Linked DNA regions of Homo sapiens: regions 2, 3 and 4 are each linked to region 1. The links come from fine-mapping of genetic effects on gene expression. A gene starts in region 1. Each other region holds a variant in brackets. All regions are shown on one strand. Distances are from middle to middle.

What was found.
Region 2: its variant is fine-mapped to the expression of PWWP2B in whole blood (INTERVAL, PIP 0.92).
Region 3: its variant is fine-mapped to the expression of PWWP2B in blood mononuclear cells (TOPMed, PIP 0.96).
Region 4: its variant is fine-mapped to the expression of PWWP2B in whole blood (TOPMed, PIP above 0.99). The same link has a PIP of 0.9 or more in lung, prostate, skeletal muscle and transverse colon.

The regions. Positions count from the first base shown.
Region 1 is chr10:132,395,578-132,398,260 of GRCh38, reverse strand. PWWP2B (PWWP domain containing 2B) reads right to left here and starts at 1,061. Exons shown (of 3, transcript NM_138499.4): 1 at 910-1,061. The coding sequence starts at 1,034. It overlaps LOC124902526 (a long non-coding RNA gene), which reads left to right and starts at 1,705. Exons shown (of 2, transcript XR_007062342.1): 1 at 1,705-2,683. RefSeq lists enhancers at 1-3, 4-526, 2,097-2,619, 2,620-2,683 and silencers at 789-928, 939-1,048, 1,459-1,888, 1,909-2,288.
Region 2 is chr10:132,434,219-132,436,901 of GRCh38, reverse strand. LINC03068 (long intergenic non-protein coding RNA 3068) reads left to right here. Exons shown (of 3, transcript NR_184030.1): 3 at 2,211-2,683. Among named protein-coding and RNA genes, the nearest start is that of LINC03068, 9.4 kb to the left of the region's middle. The variant G/TTGGGATGTG (reference allele first, on the strand shown) is at 1,177.
Region 3 is chr10:132,420,295-132,422,977 of GRCh38, reverse strand. No RefSeq gene overlaps it. Among named protein-coding and RNA genes, the nearest start is that of LINC03068, 23 kb to the left of the region's middle. RefSeq lists an enhancer at 136-1,039 and silencers at 1,497-1,556, 1,587-1,646, 1,677-1,726. The variant G/A (reference allele first, on the strand shown) is at 1,236.
Region 4 is chr10:132,363,653-132,366,335 of GRCh38, reverse strand. It overlaps LRRC27 (leucine rich repeat containing 27), which reads right to left. Exons shown (of 11, transcript NM_030626.3): 10 at 786-912. Among named protein-coding and RNA genes, the nearest start is that of PWWP2B, 32 kb to the left of the region's middle. The variant C/T (reference allele first, on the strand shown) is at 1,212.

The DNA of each region.
Region 1 (2,683 bases):
TAATTGTGGAAGGAACACGGTCCTCTCTGCTAATTCATGTCACCAGGCAAAAATCTGGGCTCCACGGATGGAAAAAGTTGGGCCTTTACAAGAGGAGCCTTTCCCTGCTCCCAGTTTCAAAAGAAAGCCCTGCAGGAGCGCAGCGAGGCCACAGCCTGATTCATGCCTAATCATTGATCTGGCAGCGACAGCTCCCTGCCATGTGACGCGGTGTCCAGGAGGCTCATCTGCACCGCATGGGTCCCTGCAGCCCGTGCACAGGTGCCTCTCAGGAGGAACCGCCCCGCCCTGCCCTGCGCCCCCCACCCAGGAAGCCAGGGCTCCCGGGGGATGTGCCCACGGCTCCCACAGCTTGTACCTCTTCACGCCCCCATGACTCAGGGCTCCCTGGCCTGAAACTGTTCTTAAATCGCACAGCTGGGCGCAACTGCTCTCCCCGAATCCAAACCTCAGCCGCGGAGTCACTCCCAGCAGCCAGGGGCCCGTGGCCTTCGACAGGGCACCCCCACCTGTGAGGAACTGCCAGGGCAAGGCCACGGCGCATCTGACCCTCCCCTGCTTTAACGACAATTCTGCCAACAGTCGAATTCAACAGTGGCTCTGAACAAAGAAAAGTGCATTAATTATGGCAGATGTGTGGAGTTCCGGGACCCCGGCCCCGCGCCCCCCGCCCCGGCCCGCCCCGGCCCGGCGCCCGCCCCGAAAAGTCGCGACGACTTTGAGAACCACTTTTGCCCCCCCGAGTGGCGGCCGCGCTCGCGCGCCCCGAAACTCAGGCTCGGCAGAAACCGAAAGCGGGCGCCGGGGCCACGCCACCCCCAACCCGGAGGCGGGTCCCGGGTCTCCGGGCGGCGGAGGCGGGTGTCGCGTGGGGACCCCGGGGGTGTCCCGGCCCGCGCCCCCGCTCACTTTTTCGTGCAGTCCAGCAGGATCCCCGCGAAGCTCCGCTCGCCGCAGCTCACCGTGACCACCAGCGCGCCGTTGACGACCTGCTCCACCCGCACCGGCAGCCGGCAGCCGGCGCGCGGCTCCATGCTCCCGCCGCGTCCCAGGCCGCCCCCGCCCCGCCGCCGCCGCCGCCGCCGCCGCCGCCGCCGGGTCAGCCCCGCGCGTGACGCCGCCCCGCGGCCGCCTGACGTCACAAAGCTCCGCTGGGGCGGCCGCCACAGCCGAGCCGAGCCGGGCCGGGGGCGCGCGGCCGCGGGCTCCGCTCCCGGGGACCCCGCCCGCCGCCGCCGCGTCCCGGGAGAAGCCGCGCCCGCCCGCAGAGGTCGGCCGGACGCGCGGTGCGGACCCCCGGGCTGGAGAGGGGGCTGCGCCCGGGCTCGCGGCCCACGCTGGCCGGGAGTGTCCCCTGGCTCGGGAGGACCCGAGAGCCACGAGCCCGGGGGCGGCGGGGGGGACACCCGCCGCGGCCGGAGCCCCGGGACCCCATCCCCCCGCTCCCCTGCCTGGGGCCGGTCCCGGGCCCCCCTCCCCCTCCGGGCCCAGCCCTGCGCCCTCCCTCCCTCCCCGGTGGCCCGGATCCTCCCGCCTGGGGTCGGCCGCCCGCGTGTCCCGGCAGCGCCCCGCGCTGGGCTCTGGTGGCCCCGGGCACTGCGGCGAGGAAGTCCCGGGCGGCGCGCGCAGGAAGCCGGGGCAGGCGGAGGGGACGCGGGGCGCCCGGGGGCAGCGGCCTAGTGTCGCCCTCGCCGCGTGGGGGGCGGGACACTGGGTCGCCCCACTGGGCTCGGCGCCTCTCGGGGCGACAAGCGGGCGCGCGCCCGGCTCAGGGCCACCCTGCGCGCCTGGGGGTGGCCGGCACCGGGGCCCGGGGGGTTAACTCCCTCCGGAGGTCTCGGGCGTGTCTCTTCGGGTTGCCGGGCCCAGGGGCCAGGCGCGCCTCCGCCAGTTTACAAAGGAAACAGCCTCCTTCCCCCGCGGCAGGGGCTCCCCGACCCGCGGGCGAGGAGTGGGAGGTGACGGCGCCGGACCCCCTTCCCCCAGGCGCCCGGCTCCCGCGCCTTCAGGCGTCAAAGCCCCCGACTTCCCCGAGCACCAGCACGTCCGCACCCGGCTCAGAACGCAGGGGCCCGGCCTGCTGCGGTGACCTTGGCCCCGGGCCGGGCTTCTGAGCCGGACTTGCAGCGCCTGACGAGGCCTGGAGGCGGGGCGGGGGACCGCGTAGTTGTCCTGGCGACCCAGCGCCGCCGGGCAGGGCTCCTCCCAGCCTGGGAATTGAGGACCACCGCCCCTGGTGCCACTGGGGACCGTCGGGTCGCTGGCGCCTGTCGACCTCGCCCTCCGGCGGCCGCGCGGCAGTGGGAGCCTCAGAGAGGAGCCAGGGCGGAGTGAGGGAGCCCGCGGGGCCTGGGACACCTGACCGTCCGGCTAGAACAGGGGTAGGGACCGAGGCCGAATGAGCCAGAGTTCTGGCCGGGGACAGTCCCAGAGGAGGCCTGGAAGCCCAGTGAGTGTCTGTCCTCCTCTGTGTGGCCTGGGGCTCCCGCCAACACTAAGCCCTTCCTGGGGCCTCAGGCACCTCAAGGCGCCCCGTTCTCCAGGGTCAGCCAGCCCCTGCCCACTGGTTGCCAGGCTTGCAGTGGAGCCTGCCTGCTGTCCTGCCCACAGGCCTCTGCAGCTGCCCCCTCCAGGGGTGGGGCTGACTTTGGAGGAAAAATGCCAGGCAGCAGGGACCCCCTCG
Region 2 (2,683 bases), 39 kb before region 1:
CTACAGAGGGGCCTTGGTGCTGGGAGCCCCTCACAGTCAGGGGAGCCAGGGCAGGCGGGCCTGGGTCAGGGGTGTAGACAAGGCTGGGCTGGAGCCACCCAGGGCACAGAGCTGCCCCTCCCCACCGGGCTGGGTGCCCCTCCCTAGGGCGGCCCAGGTTAGCAAATTCAAAAGATCAAAGTTAGAACAACAAATCCATTTTCAGCATACGTGTGCTCCATGCAAATTTGGGACAGACGTATACTAAGCAATGATACATTGCTGATCTGAATTCATCTTAGCTGGGGATCCCGAGTTTTATCTGGCAGCCTGCCTCCCTGCTCCCCACCACCTTGGCTCCCACCAGCTAGGAGCCTTGTAATCTCTGGATGCCAAACTTCAGCCAATGGGCCACATCCAGTGGAGAAGGGACCTGGGGGCACCCAGTCAATGGGCCACATCCAGTGGAGAAGGGACCTGTGGGCACCCAGTCAATGGGCCACATCCAGTGGAGAAGGGGCCTGGGGGCACGCAGCCAATGGGCCACATCCAGTGAAGGGGCCTGGGGGCACGCAGCCAATGGGCCACATCCAGTGGAGAAGGGGCCTGGGGGCACTCAGCCAATGGGCCACATCAAGTGGAGAAGGGGCCTGGGGGCACTCAGCCAATGGGCCACATCCAGTGGAGAAGGAGCCTGGGGGCACCCAGTCAATGGGCCACATCCAGTGGAGAAGGCGCCTGGGGGCACTCAGCCAATGGGCCACATCCAGTGGAGAAGGGGCCTGGGGGCACCCAGTCAATGGGCCACATCCAGTGGAGAAGGGGCCTGAGGGCACCCAGCCAATGGGCCACATCCAGTGGAGAAGGTGCCTGGAGGCACCCAGTCAATGGGCCACATCCAGTGGAGAAGGGGCCTGAGGGCACCCAGCCAATGGGCCACATCCAGTGGAGAAGGGACCTTGGGGCACCCAGTCAATGGGCCCCATCCAGTGGAGAAGGGGCCTGAGGGCACCCAGCCAATGGGCCACATCCAGTGGAGAAGGCACCTGGGGGCACCCAGCCAATGGGCCACATCCAGTGGAGAAGGGGCCTGAGGGCACGCAGGGAGGCTGTGGCAGTGGGCAGAGGGGCGTAGCGGTGTCTGGGGTAGGCAGGATTCTCCAGGGAAACAGAACCATTGGGATGTGTGTACAAACA[G/TTGGGATGTG]TGTACATATAGGGTATATACAGTGTACATAGAGGTCATATACCATGTACATATTGGGTATCTACAATGTACATATAGCGTATATACCATGTACATCATATAGGGTATATACTATGTACATGTAGAGTATATACAGTGTACGTGTAGGACATATACCACATACATATAGGGCATATGCTGTGTACATATAGGGTATATCCCGTGTACATAGAGGTCATATACCATGTACATATTGGGTATCTACAATGTACATATAGGGTATATACCATGTACATCATATAGGGTATATACTATGTACATGTAGAGTATATACAGTGTACGTGTAGGACATATAGCACATACATATAGGGCATATGCTGTGTACATATAGGGTATATCCCGTGTACATATAGGCCATATGCCATGTGCATATAGGACATATACCGTGGACATATAGGGCATATACCATGTACATATAGGGTATATATTGATATTGTGTACATATATAGAATATTCATAGTGTGAGTGTGCATATAGTACACACATATACAGCATATATACAGTGTGTGCATATAGAGTATATATAGTGTGTGTGTGTAAAGTTATAGTGTGTGTATATAGTGTATGCATATGGACTATACTGTGTGTGTATAGTGTATATGTAGCATGCATACAGAGTATATATAGTGTATGTACACATATAATGTGTATATATTATAGAGATAGCATATGTATACATAGTGTGCATATAGTGTACATTAATATAGAGTATGCATATATTTGTGTAATATAGTGTGCATATAGATATATACAGTGTATGTATAGTGTATATATAGTATACATATATAGAGATTATATACAGTGTGCATAGTGTATATGGTCTGTGCATATTGCATACCTATATATTCTATACACAGTGTATGTATGTGTATACATAGTGTGTATATGTAGTATACATGTAGTGTGTGTATATATATATAAAATGTAAATATATACATAGGGAGAGCGTGCAAGAGAGATTTATTTTAAAGAATTGGCTTATGTGTTTGTGGCAGCTGCTCATCTGACACCTGAGGGCCGCTGGAGACCCAGGGACACTCCTGCTGCGGCTCATGTTTGGAAGCTGTCCGGAGGCGGGACTTCCTCTTCCTCCAGGGGCCGCCGTCCGGAGGCGGGACTTCCTCTTCCTCGGGGACAACTGTCTTTTTCTCTTAAGGCCTTGGACTGCCTGGATGAGGCTATAATATGGTCAGTACTCTGCTCTACCCAAAGTCTCCTGATTGAAATATTAACCTCATCCAAGAAACACCCTCACAGCGACGTCTACACTGGTGTTTGACCAAATAGCTGGGGACCGTGGCCTGGTCGAGCTGACACAAAAGTAACCATCACAGCTGCTGCTATGGTCTGAATGTTGATGTCACCCCCAGATTCATTTGTTAGAACTTAAGCCCCAAGGCGATGGCATCACTGGTGGGCTTTGGGAGATGAGGAGGATATGAATGGGACCAGTAGCCTCATAAGAGTT
Region 3 (2,683 bases), 25 kb before region 1:
CGTGGGGATGTTGCCCATCTATAAACACGCTGAAAGCCATGGACGTGTCCACTGGAAGGGGAGGGATCATATGATATGTGAGCTACGTCTCAAAGAAAGCTGTTTTTTCAAAAAGACTTGTTTCCCGTCTCCCCCGAGGGCTTCCTGGACTCCTGTTGCTTGTCTCTGTCACGAATCCTCACCCCAAAATCATAGGATGAACACCCCAAAGAAATCATGAGAACTCTTCTCTTTGTAGCAAACCACCAAAGGAGAAATTCATGCTTGAAACTGTATCCAAACGGATCAGGGGCCCAAGGGCTGGATGATCTTCACCGCAGCTGGTCTCTGAAAACATGCCTTGTGACCTGCAGTGAGGAGTCCGCATCTGTCTGTGCCACCTGCTGAGACTGTCCTCTCTCGGGCTCCCATGGGGGCTGCGGGCTGGAGCGGGGCCAGGAGGGAGGGGGATGGACGGCTGGGAGGAGGACAGACACCCACACCTCGGTGACAGGTGACAGGCGTTGGCTTGGGCAGAGCCTCGGTGACCTGCCTAGGTTTTCTTCCCCAAAGCAGATCCCAGCTGCGTCTGCACCCAGCAGGCCCCAGAGCCTTCTCCTCCGTGGGGGGGTGGGGGTAAGTCCCCTCCTGCTGGGCTGCCAGGCCTCAGGCAGCCTCGACGCAGCTCTGCACCCAGCTCCCGGCTCCCACAGAGAGCCCTGCAGCTACAGCCGGGGCGGCAGCTTCCAGTGGGCTTCCTGGACCCCTGTCTCCCAGCCACGCCGACCGCAGCCACTATGTGGCTCCTTACAGTCCTCCCCCGGGACCCCTCAGCCCCCACTGGCCTCCGTCTCCCCATCCTGGTGCCCCTCTGCTCTCTGTGGGTCTCCATGGGTCACCCCACTGCCCCGTTCATCTCTCCGTCCTGGCGCCCTCTGCCCTCCGAGGGTCACCCCCGCCGCCCTCTCATCTCTCAGGTCTTGTCCCTGCCTGGCAGCGGGTTGAGCACTGGGCCCACTCCTGGGCCTCCCAGCTCCCTTGGGACCATCTCTCTCACCTCTCCAGCCCCTCCAGCTGTGGACACTGACCCCTGCCTGGCTATGGGGCTCTAGGGCAAGCCCCTCCGGCTCCAGGCCTTCAGCCCCCTCCCCCCAGCCACACCCAGGAAGGAAGGAAGCCCCCACTGCTCTGCCCCTTGGAGGGTCAGCGACGCCTGCCCGCACAGGGAAGCTCTCCTGCCTCCCTTCGTGGTTGGG[G/A]AACTGGCTGCCCTGGGTGAGGCCCTCAGGCCTCACCCGCCTCTCTCTGCGGAGAAAAGGCCCGTGGTAGCAGCAGGCGGGGCTGGGGCTAAAAATAACTCTGCTGGGGCAGAGGCTGGCTGGTGAGGCCGCCTCTGTAGGGTGGGGGCGGGAAGGGAGACCGGCCCTGGGACAGCCTCAGCTGGAGCCCAGGGGCGGTGGCCCCAAAGGCCAAGCAGGAGGCCCACTGACCTGACCTCCCCCCGCAGAGAAGCTGGGCAGGGAGCAGGAAGTCCATCTGGGGTCAGGGCGGTGGGGCCCCCCCAGCTGCAGCCCCCTACTTCCAGCCGGGTATTGATCGGCTTGAAGCTCCTTGGGGCACAAAGGAGCTTAACCCTCCTGAGCAGATGACGGCCACGCTCAGGCCAGGGGCAGGGCCCCATCTGCGTCGGCCTCTCCGGAGTGCACCCTTCCCATGGCTGGGGGTGGGGCTGGGGCCGGGGCCGCAGGGTGCAGGGAGCCCAGCGGGAGAGCCCAGCCCTGCCGCGGCTCCTCCCTCAGTGTCCACGGGGAGATGCCCCTGGCCACAGGCAGCCGTTGGCACCTCAGACCTGGGGCAGGAAGGGGAGGGAGCCCCCGGCCACAGGAAGCCACGGAAGGGTGAGCTGGGCACAGAGTTCCAGGGTGACACAAGGCCAGGTCTGCAGAGCAAACATCTGTTAATGCCCAGAAAACTCACCCGGGAAGAAATACGCAAAAGGCCCACAGGGTGTGAGACTGCGGGAGATTCTAATTTTCTTTTTTTTTTTTGCTTTTCTTTATTTTGCTAATTTTTTCCCCCCACCAACAGGGGTTATTTTATAATCAAAGAAACAGAAAACCCTCGCAGAAAAGGGAAGTGCTGGCTGGGGTCCTGGCCACGGTGCCGTCCAGGCAGGATTTGGAAGGGTCCTGGGCTTTGGAGTCCAGGAACCAGCTGTGGCCCCCCGGGTCTCAGCCTCCCCAGCTGTAATGCAAAGTATGCACCCCCAGTGAGGACTCCTCACCTGCTCTTGCCCCTCCCCAGCCATCCCACCACCACCCAGCAGGGCCTAGGCTGCGGGGCTTGCACTGTGAGAAGCCCAGGCAAGGAGGTGACGCAGAGGCCCTGGCCCAGCCCACACAGCCAGGCCACAGAGCTGGAGCCCAGGGCGACCTAGTCTCTGTCCCCAGAAGGCAGACCAGGACTCCAGCCCCAGGAGCCCCACACAGGCCTTGACTCCCTCTCCTGGACCACGCCAGGGTCCCCCTAGATGGCGGGCAGGGGGTTGTGGGCAGGGCCTCCGGGAGATGGGACCAGCAGAAATGGAGCCACCTGGGGGAGGATCTGCAGCAAGAGGAGGAAGATGAAGAACAAGAGGAAGAGGAAGAAGAGAAAGAAGGCTGGAGAGCAGCACCCCAGGCCACGCCACCCACTGCGTCCAGCCCAG
Region 4 (2,683 bases), 32 kb after region 1:
GTCAGGAGGCCTTGGATCCCCATGAATATCGGCCTCCCTACATAGACACCGAGCGTGTCAGCCATGGTCCGGTGGCCTCAGCCAGACCCCTCTCTGCAGTGACGCCCCTCATGGCCCAGCCCTGGGCCCACAGCCTGGATCAGCTGGGTGCAAAACCTCAAGCAAGGACCCCACAGACATGTGGAGAGGACTGGTTCCCAGTCCCTGTCAGCAGGCTGCCACTCCTGCCATCAGATTCCCAGTGCTGAGATGCCAAGGCCCGCCATGTGGCCTGGCACATTTGAGGGCTCAGCCCCTCGGCTGAAATGTTTTCCTTCTCATGTGACCAACTGTAATTCTGGGAATTTCTACACCTCATAAGACACATTCCACACAGTCCCACGGTTTTAGAGAGCGCATGCTCTGAAGAGGCACAGTGAGTTCTCTTTATTTTTAATAAAACAATGTTTTAGGCTGTGCACAGTGGCCCAGCAATTTGGGAGGCCAAGGCAGGTGGATCACTTGAGGCCAGGAGTTCGAGACAAGGCTGGCCAACATGGCAAAACCCTATCTCTATTAAAAATACAAAAATTAGCCGGGCATGGTGGTGTACACTTGTCCCAGCTACTCGGGAGGCTGAGGCAGGAGAATCGCTTGAACCTGGGAGGTGGAGGCTGCAGGGAGCCGAGATTGTGCCACCGCACTCCAGCCTGGGTGACAGAACAAGACTCTGTCTCAAAAAAACAAAAACAAAACAAAACAAAAAACACCCCACACTTTTTTAAACAGAACCAAGAAATCCTTACAATTTCCAGATCCTCGGCAGCCTTCCTCATCTCCTCCAGTGGGGCCTGGCCATGGAATCTTCTTTGCTCACGCATTTGGAGGACGTGCTGTTTTATCTTCTCTTCTAAATTTCTCTCCTGCAGGGCACTGAGAAACAAAGGGCAAAGAGGGAAATGACTTGACACATTTACTCTCATCCTAGCAACTCCCGCCATAACCAGGGAGAAAGCATGTGCCTTTCTTCCCAGACCAAACAGCGGTCCTGAGGCTCCCGCACAGCTGTGCCAGTTACTGTGGCGCTGCCCTGGGCCTCCCCGGCACCCACTCTCCTCCAGACTCACGCCGGGGGGCCTGGGCTGCCTCTCCCATCCCTTCTTCAGTAGTTCAGAAGCTGCCAGAACACACACTATTCTTATTTAAAAACCTCAAATTGATTTAAGATATGA[C/T]ACATTTAGGACACTGCACACTGCACCACATGAAGGGAAAAGCAGGTTTCTGTTCCCACATGGAATACACGGTTTTCCTAAATCCTTAAACAGACAAACAGAAAAGTGTATTCAATTATGATTTTAAACATATTTTCTGTTAGCACTGGGGCTCAGGGGTTTGGGGTTCCTTTAATTTTAAAGACAATGACTCAGGGTGGTAGAAAGAGCTGGGGATCTGCTGCAGGTGAGCTGTGGGGTGGCGGGGTCCACTCCAGTCTGCGTGAGTGTGGGGCCCCAGGGTGTGGGCGTGGAGGTAGATGTAAGGGTGGGTGTAAGTGTGGGTGGGTGTGAGTGTGGGCGTGGAGGTAGATGTAAGCATGAGTGTAAGTGTGGGCGTGGAGGTAGATGTAAGTGTGGACGCGGACTGCATGAGTGTGGGGCCCCACGGTGTGGACGTGGGTGTAAGCGTGGGTGTGCAGGTAGATGTAAGTGTGGGTGGGTGTTAAGTGTGGGCGTGGAGGTAGATGTAAGCGTGGACGCGGACTGCCTGAGTGTGGGGCCCCAGGGTGTGGACGTGGGTGTAAGTGTGGGTGTGGAGGTAGATTTAAGTGTGGGTGTAAGTGCGAGTGTGGAGGTAGATGTAAGGGTGGGTGTAAGTGTGGGTGGGTGTAAGTGTGGGTGGGTGTGAGTGTGGGTGTGGAGGTAGATGTAAGCGTGGGTGTAAGCGCGGGTGTGGAGGTAGATGTAAGGGTGGGTGTAAGTGTGGGTGGGTGTAAGCGCGGGTGTGGAGGTAGATTAAGTGTGGGTGTGGTCATGGGTGTGGTGTGGGTGTTGGTGCGGGCGTGGGTGCATGCGCCACTGTGAATACAATGGCACACAGTCTCACTCAGCCTCTCCGAAGACCCTCTTACTCCCAGCAGCAGGGTTTGTGCCGGTTTTGCTTGCTTTTCAGAGTAACTATGGAAAAGAAAGCATGATGTCCTCTGGAGTTCTACAGAACAGAGCCCTCAGGTCAGGGCATGCCCTGTGTCAGCGCCTCAGACTCCAGCTTTTACTGTGCCCAGGGTGATGGGGGGTTAGCGGGCCACTGTGGTCTGCTGTGGGCTTTTTAAAGGCCAAATATGGCAGGTAAACTCCCTGGAGGATGTAAGAGAACATTCAAATGTTTGAGACGAAATGGTTTTAGTCTAAGCCATTTTCACGAGGTTGGGGAGTTAATACAACCTAGTTGGCCTTCGAGATTTTCCCTAAACACTGTCAGCCTCCAGGAGGAACAAATTCTGCAGGAACAGAACATGCCCTTTGTCACCCACATCTCATCCCACCTCACCCTTCCTCCAGGTTTCTTACATCGCAGCCGGGATCCAGGGTACGTTAAACTGAGTGGGGAGCCCCCTGGCAGACGTACGCTGAGCAGCAGGGCCGGGGCCAGGCCCTGGGCCTTCCAAGCTCAGGCCCCACGGTCTCTTCTGCTCTGGCCTCTGAGTGCA